Linked DNA regions of Homo sapiens: all the other regions are linked to region 1. The links come from fine-mapping of genetic effects on gene expression. Tissue or cell type: fibroblasts. Region 1 holds a variant in brackets; each other region holds the start of a gene. All regions are shown on one strand. Distances are from middle to middle.

Region 1 (2,687 bases):
AGTCTGTGCTTCAGCTTTCTGTCTACAATGTAGGGATGATCAGGACTCTGTCTCCTAGGGTTGCTAAGAGGACAGAATGAGTTAATACATTTCAAGTACTTGGAACAATGCACAGTGAGCACCCCATAAATGCTGAGTATTATGATTGTTTTTTCAATAAGTATCTCCAGAACTGTTAGTTTATAATTAGTAGCTACGACTTTAATCTAGTTTGGTGAGACTCATGTTTTTAAGACTCACTAACCTGGAGATAGAACTTGGATTCTAAAATCATTACAAAAATATTTCTTTGCCTCTACCTACATTTGCTATTTTCAGGCTCCTTCCCCCTAATATCCTGTTACTAACCACTACTGAGTCATCATAAAGCAATTCTCTCACTCCTATCAGACTCCAAATTCTCTTTTGAAAATAGATATATATTCATTGACACCTGGTTGATCCAGAATGAAATATCTATAACTCGCCTATCCACATAATTTTAACAAACCAGTATAATACCCCAACTCTTTTATAAAGGAAAATTAAGGTGAAAGTAATTTATAATATAACAACATGTATTTCAATGTGTAAATATTTATGCACGATTACACCATAGGGTGTAATGAAATAGTCAGATGCTTCCACTCATCTGTAGAATCACCATGAATGTGACAGCTACAAATTCAAATTGCTGTGGTTGTATCATAGAGGGAAACTAAGATTCCATAGGTCACATTGCTATTGGTGATGTGCCTTTCCAAAATGGAAACAGCTCTGGAGAAAGTCACAAATAAAGCAAAGCTTAGTGTCCCCTTGCTTGGCCATGGAATTTCATTTCTGCAAAATTCAGTATGTAATAAAACTGATTAAAATGAGTAAAACTGAGTTTATATGCAAAACCACATCAAGCTCTAGGTTCAAATAATTACCAACTGGCTTTTCATCCACATCAATATCCATTGAGACATTCAAAAGTTATGTGGGACAGGGGACAATGTGTTGTTGCACAGGGTGATACTCAGCATCGTAGCAGCTGTTGTGGTATGAGAATGAATGCCTAACCATTTAAACAGATGTTAGACTTTATACCTTACCAGTGCATTCCAAAGAAATACCAGATCTATCTTGCATAAGGCACAAATCTATTTGTGGCCTTTATCCATTAAATTTCAGTAGCATTGCTCATCGTAGTGACGGCCCCAAATGCTCCCTTTGTCTCAGAGATCACTTCCTATGTATTCATAAGTACAATCCTCTCATACTTGTTACAG[CTA/C]TATTCACCGTTTACTCCACTTCTGCTGGAGTCCCCCATGGCCATCTGCTGCTGATGTACACCACTGCTCATGCCCACCAAAGGCACTCTGCCCCTGGGCTCCATGTGGCATCGGTCCTGCTGCTGCAGCTGCCTGTGTCTGTGCTGAGGTGCCATGTCCAGGGTCAGGGACAGAGATTCATGCAGTACCTGCTTCTCCTCCTGCTGCTGCTGAAACAAACTGCTGGTGTACATCCCACTGTACTAGTCATTGTCCTGCCCAGGGCCTGTCATCCCTTTAGTTTTCCAAAGCCTGAATAAGTAAAAAATAAATTGGATTTTTTCAGTTCAGTAGGCAAAATCCTTCTTTATTATTTTTTTCTATTGTATGTAATATTATAGTCTCAACATCTCACAGATAACTTGAAAAAAATGTTTTAGTATTGTTTTAGCTTTTGACCTAAACCCTGGAGTGGAAGTGGAGCCTGTGGAATACAAGAACAGCATACAAAAAAGTGCCTTTCTTTTTTGTCATCCTGGTATCCTTGGGCTTCTCTTGCCATCTACCTCTTTTTTCTTTAGGAGAGATTCCTTACTATTAAACCTCATGCATAGTTCTGCCAGTCAAGGCCAGACACAGTGGACTCCTTATTGAACATGGATTAGTTTCACACTAAAACTGCACTATACTGATAAATAATAACCGAATAGCATCTTGTCATCTCTCATTGACGATAGGGTTTAAAAGAACAACAACAAAAAATAGATGTATTTTCTACCATTTCCTATTTGGGGGGTTGTCATGGTGTGTTTAGTACCCCTGGGTTTTAACAATGTCCCGACTGAGCCTGAAATATTTCTCCCGAACAGAGTTTGGATACAGAGCTGAATTCAACCTTCACATATAAAGCCGTAACTATTTATACCATTGTGATCCAAATATTGCAGAAGCAGGAAGGTTTACTTTGAATCTAAATACAGAATTGAGAAGAAAGGGAGGAAGATGACATGGTTGAGTAGAAAGGTTATGCTTAATCTGTCTTCTTCAGTTCAGTATTTTGTAATGTTTCTGTTTCTACATTCCTTCCCTCAGTCCCGTGTAGGTCAGCCCAGCAGCCAATTTTAGAACAGTTTTGTGTCATTTAAGGGAAAGAACTTTCAACTGTATTTGTAGCAGGCTATAAAAAGCAAAGATACCACCCACAAAATGATATCTAAATTTTTCCAATTACGTGATTTATTGGTAAATCTACACATTTGTTGTGCCAAGAGCAAAATGAGAAATGTGCCAGGTGTACTCAGAGTTTTAATTAAGGAAACCTTACCTAATGGAAAGATTTTAATAAGGTATTTTGTTGTTTAAAAGCCATTGAAACAACATTTTAAGCCATTTGTCGATAAAAAGCCCTCAATTATGTAGAATATGGCTCATGAGGGAAAGTATACAAACTGG
Region 2 (2,687 bases), 97 kb before region 1:
GTTCTTTAATCTACTAGAATCATTTCTGGGATACTAATTTTCCACCTTCTTCCCAATTCCCATTATTTGAAGTCTAGCTATATTATCTTAAAATTTTCAATACTGTTGTCTTTCATTTCTCCCAACCGAATGGCAATTTTATTTTAGCATCTGATTTACTTTCTTCTGTACCTTGTTCTCAACAATTTAATAAAGCATAAGAATGACTCTTTAGATTCCCCAAACTCTGTTTTTCAGACTTCTTGCCTTAACAGAACTTAATAGAACTGTCTGCCTATTCCTTATCACTCAGTAACAGCATTGTCACACCCTGGATTCCAATTTAGAAATCTCACAATTCTTATTATCTCTCAAATCACATTGCATCCACCAAAACGATATGTCCTACAACACCACTGTTCAGCCATTTTCTCTTAAAACTCTTTTGGCTTCTAAAAGTGAAGCATCACTTTATTTTTCTCTATCCCATTTGTCATAAGATTAAGGACTCTGAACCTATACATAAAATAATATTAAAGCCACTGGAGGCGATACATGCAAGGGCTTGGGATAAATCCAGCTTCCGTGTGAATATTTCTTCTGTAATGTGTTAATTAATTTGTTCTATAGGATGTTAAAAGGGTTTCTTTCTCACAAGCAAGGAACTCTAGATGCCCATTTCTCTGAATCTGTGCTAGCTGGGCACCCCTAGGGGGCGCTCCGTCTCTCAAAATACAAGGGGCTGACAGCAGCGTGCCTCTGGGTGAGGCTCACTCTAGGGGTGTGGCCTCACGGAGAACCTCAACCCACAAGAGTTTGGCTTAGAAACAAGTTTGAAAACCTCTTCAGGTCCAGAGCCTTTAAATAATGCCTGCTATGCGCTAAGACAGCCCTGGGTATCCAGAGTTCACAAAGCAAGGACTGATTTCCTTTCGCCTTGACAGCCTCAGCAAAAGTGGAAGGGGGTTTGCAGAATTGCACTATTAGCAGCGTCCACCCGAAGGTCTGCACAGAATTAGACTGAGCTGATTCTGGACAAAGCCCACTGTGTACCTTTATCTACTGGGCAAAAGTTACCCCCAACACCTGCTATAATCGACTCATTTTAGGAGCAAAATGTCAGGCCATGAAGCATCAGATCATTGAAAGACCCAATTAATTAGTCCAGGAAAGGAGTAATAAGAACATCTGTGATCTGAGTTCCATACTAAGACACAGAGAGACGACTGAGTTATTCTGGTGCTTGCTGTCTGAGGTCCAGACAGTACTTGTGACCCTCTTATCCTCAGAAGAGTAACCACAATTCCCTGGAGTGAAGAATATCCCAATTCACTCATGGAGTTCACTTTAGTCTCATTCTCGACCTTTGTCACCAATTGGCTAAGGCTATTTGTTTTTCCAATTCTGTATTAGGAAAAAGAAGTTGCACAGAGGATCAGACATCAGATACGTTTCTAAATTCTGCAGCTCTGGGTGGGCAGCCTCATTTGGGGAAATGCTAGCTGCTGTTTCCAAAGTGGGGAAGCCCACGGTTTCGGACACAGGGCTGACAGCGCTGCTCCAGCAGCCCCCAGGGCCAGAGGAACCCGGCCTTAGCTCCGCCCCGCTCTGCCCGGCCCCGGGTGGCTGCGATGCCGAGGTCCTCTGCTCCCGCCGGGCGTGCAGCGGGCGCGCGCGCGTGTGTTTATGTGTCTGTGTGCGTGTGTGTGTGTGTCTCTCTCTGTGTGTGTGTGAGATGAATTGGAGTCATACGACTGGGTGTTTCCTTCCGAGTGGTTTTCATCAGCAATCCATTAGGAAATCATGGAAACTTTTTTTTTCCTGGCTAAAAGGATGAAAACTGAGTAAGTACATAGAACTTTGAACTTGAGACGGAATGAAACAAATTCAAGCAAAAACCCTGACAGTAACCATGTCCATTCAAATTGCGTATGCCCTTTTTATGTTAAAAGCCGTGAATACTTACAGGACAGTGGGAATTTAAAACTAAATGAAGGGAAGCATACAAAAGGCTGAAAGCAAGACTGCTTTAAAACCGGAGGAAAATTGAGGAACTGCTAAGGCAACCTGGCCTGAGTTCAGCTGTGCAACAGGCACTTTGGGTTTTAATCTTTTGCGTTCTTCAATGCTGTTTTCAGACTCCAGATATACTTTGGTATTGTTTTCTCTCTTCCTGCAAAGCTGAGGCAGAGTCGGACTCCTTTACTGTGAGTTGAAAGATGTGAGAATAAGGCATTGCTGGAAGCAACAGTTTGGCAGCCTGGGGTACACTCAGGTTATTCGTTACAACTATTATTATTTGATGTCTTTTTTTAAACTCAGGTCATCCACTTTTGACTGTCATCCATGGAAGAGCTCTTATTAAAAGCCTCAGACTTTCGGGACCTATGATTCTTTGGCACAACCTTTTGGAAAATTCTTAAGCAGGGATGAAGCAAACTTGATTGGAGTTGGGGAAAAAGAAGACAGATTAGTATTTTTCATGCTGACAAAAAATAGCTGCTATGACTTTTCCCGCAACGTGGACAGGGGCCAAGTGAAGCTGAACTGGTCATGGTCTGTCGCCCAGTGTTCCCTTGTCGTCGGCGATTTTGCCCCCGACCCTTCTTGGTGGGCTTAGTGGTGGCAATCTGTCTCTTCTACCAGACTCTGACCCTCCGAGGGTCGAGGAAGCTCACAGCCGCTGCCCCTGGGGCTGTCCCACACAC
Region 3 (2,687 bases), 230 kb before region 1:
TTGTTCTAATTACAAATGGAACTTGAGCTAGATCAAAGGCATTTTAAGAAGGTCAAATTTTACTTCTCTGAAAAATAAAGGGTGTTATCCCATGTAATTAATTAATGCTTAGCCATGCCCTTTGGCGCATTATCCGGTGGCTGCAGAAAACCAGAGCCAGCCGTTCCCACCTGTTGGTGCAGTGAAACTTACTTACCCAAAAGAGCAGATTGAGGGCGTAGAGCAGGCAGCGCAGACACTTCACGGAATCTTCTCTGGCCATTGTGAGCCCCGTAAGGGAGAAGCCCCATCCTTTCACCACATCCTACTCCCAAGGGCAAAACGGCAGCGATCTGCAGGGGGCGGGGGAGAGAGAACACGGGACATCTCACCATCACGCTTCCCACAGCCTGCCCGTCCCTCCTCCACCCGCCCTCAGCAGGGTCCAGAGGGTCCCGAGGCCCAGTGCATTCGAGACATCGCCTCATCAAAAATCATTTGTTAAAATCATAATGGTAACTAAACTCCCAAAAGTTCCAAACCGGCTTCAGATAACACCTGCTGGGAAAAGAAAAGAGCAACTATCCGGATGAATGAAGTCGCACAGTAAACTCGCGTTCTCAGGGGACACGCGGCGGAGCCCTGTGCATTCTGATGAGACGCTCTTGAAAACCTCCCTCACTCCACGCCCCTCCTCGAGGACAGCTGTGCTCGGCACTGTCCTGAAGGTGAGAAACCACACTGCCCCCTACCCCGGACACGTCAGAGGCGCCACCGGCAAGCCCGAGAGAATGAGCGCCCTTCTAGTTAGGACAGTTCCTGGGCACTCCAACTCCGCACCCCTCTACCCCGTCCCGCAGCTCGGGTGTGAATGCAAGGGACTGGGGCGGCGGGGCGGGGGCGGGGGCGGGGGCGAGGGGGCAGCGCGGAGTTGAGATTCCGCCCGGCTACTAGGGTTTCTCTGGGAGAACGTGAGAAATGATGTTTTCGGCCCCAGAATGATGGATTAGCCTGGGACAGTGGGCGGGGGGCGGGGGGCGCCGGGGAATTAGGGCCGATGCAGCTGTGCAGACGCCGGGTTAGTCATTCAAACCCCGCTTCCCCCGCCCGGGACGCTCCCGCGACCCCTCGCTCAAAGCCGCCCGCGGAGCACAAAGCGAGCGCGGCCACCGACCCAGCCATCGCGTCCGCGCGCCCCCGGCAGGGCGCGAGGGGAAGCGCCGGCGGCAGGGAGCCCCAGAGCCAGCCCTTAAGTAGTTTAGCACACAGCGCGGAGGGCAGCCGCCGGCGGGCTGGCGGGACAGCGGGCAGGAAAGGCGACAGACGCGTGGCCACTTACCGTCGGCGCTGGGCCCGGTGCCCCACGCCCGCCTGGGGATAGTCGGGGACGCACGGCGGGGGCTCATCGGGGCAGGGAACTTCTTCGCGGAGAGCCGGAGGGCTGCATTGGCTTCAGCTGGAGACGCTTCTTTCTCTTCCTCTCCCCCCGCCGCCGCCGTCGCCGCCTCCTGGGAAAAAGAAAAAAAAAAAAAAAAGTCCTGGGCAGCAGTTGCTGGAAAGTCTCTGCTAAGCCACCTCCCAGCGCCGCTGTCCCTCCCAAGTCCTCTCCGAGTCCGGACGAGGCAGCGGCGGCAGCCAGGGCCAGCTGCACAAACTCTCAGCGCATGCTCGAGCCGCTGGCTGCCGGGGTTGGGTCCTAGTGGGTGTTTCTTGTCCCTCTCACCCAGCGAGAGTCCCCAAAGGGACGCTTCACCTCTGCAGGATAGGGTCCAGAAGATAATGCCTAGGAACTTGGGAGAAGTCCGTGCAGTAAATCCCTTTAAAATGGTGGCGTCGAAGGAATGGAGGCTGGGTTATAAGCATAGAGAAGCAGGCTTTTATTATATGATAATATTTGTGTTTGAGAAGGGGGGTGAAGGGGTGGCCCAACCCAATTCCTGCAATGAGAAACTAGTTTTCACAACCTTTATGGAGCCACCTCCTGTGATTTGTTATTAACATGGTGCCCTATGATCCTTCTTATTGCTTTGTTGCCCTCCCGGATTTTTTTTTTTTTAAGTTCTTTCCCACTTTCATAGTGCACTAATAGCATTTACGGAAACATCAGAGTAATCATGTGCAGTCTGACATGCAGAAGAGGAGGAAAGAACATTTTTAACTCTTAGAAGTAACTCAAGCTTTCCAAAATTTCTCACGATAAGATTGTTTTGAGTTAACTGGGTGATTTATTTTGAAATGTGTACATAGTAGTGGATCTTTGGAAAATCTAATTTTTTTAAACTAGAAATTCATGAAGTATTACACAGCAGGAGACCATCCTTCCAAAAGAATCTTCCCTTTTAGAAGACAGAAGTTTCACACTAAATAAAATGCCACTGGATCATATCCTCCACATAAAATGTGGATGTGTTGTGCTATGCCTCACAGTACTGCTCATTTCTAGGATTACTTTTGTGGGCACTGCATGGCAAATAAAACTTCACCAGCAAATATGAATTACCTGGAATACGAGCAACATCTTTGACCTAATAACTGGAGTCCTTGGATTTCCTTGCAGAAAAAAAAAAAAAAAAAAAAATGGAATCCTATGTCCATGACTGCCTGTCTAGAGTTAGTTGCTGCATGACTGGAGTGACAATAAGACATGCAGTCTCATATGGAAAAGTCAAGACCAAAAGACAACATGGTTGTCCTGGGTTAGGCTAGGA

Which allele goes with the higher level. Alleles are on the strand shown, and positions count from the first base shown. SD is a standard deviation of normalised expression in the study named.
As copies of CTA replace C in region 1, the expression in fibroblasts of the gene that starts at base 1,622 in region 2 goes down (large effect, 0.79 SD a copy in GTEx).
As copies of CTA replace C in region 1, the expression in fibroblasts of the gene that starts at base 1,643 in region 3 goes down (small effect, 0.22 SD a copy in GTEx).

What was found. PIP is the estimated chance that this variant, and not a neighbour inherited with it, causes the effect.
Region 2: it holds the start of CPED1, and the variant in region 1 is fine-mapped to the expression of CPED1 in fibroblasts (GTEx, PIP above 0.99).
Region 3: it holds the start of TSPAN12, and the variant in region 1 is fine-mapped to the expression of TSPAN12 in fibroblasts (GTEx, PIP above 0.99).

What each region holds. Positions count from the first base shown.
Region 1 is chr7:121,083,816-121,086,502 of GRCh38, forward strand. All of the region lies in intron 5 of CPED1 (cadherin like and PC-esterase domain containing 1), which reads left to right. Among named protein-coding and RNA genes, the nearest start is that of CPED1, 96 kb to the left of the region's middle. The variant CTA/C (reference allele first, on the strand shown) is at 1,254.
Region 2 is chr7:120,987,090-120,989,776 of GRCh38, forward strand. CPED1 (cadherin like and PC-esterase domain containing 1) reads left to right here and starts at 1,622. Exons shown (of 23, transcript NM_024913.5): 1 at 1,622-1,823; 2 at 2,302-2,687. The coding sequence starts at 2,533. RefSeq lists an enhancer at 798-877.
Region 3 is chr7:120,856,502-120,859,188 of GRCh38, forward strand. It overlaps TSPAN12 (tetraspanin 12), which reads right to left and starts at 1,643. Exons shown (of 8, transcript NM_012338.4): 1 at 1,319-1,643; 2 at 197-332. The coding sequence starts at 262. It overlaps LOC124901733 (a long non-coding RNA gene), which reads left to right and starts at 334. Exons shown (of 2, transcript XR_007060491.1): 1 at 334-707. RefSeq lists silencers at 586-805, 998-1,297.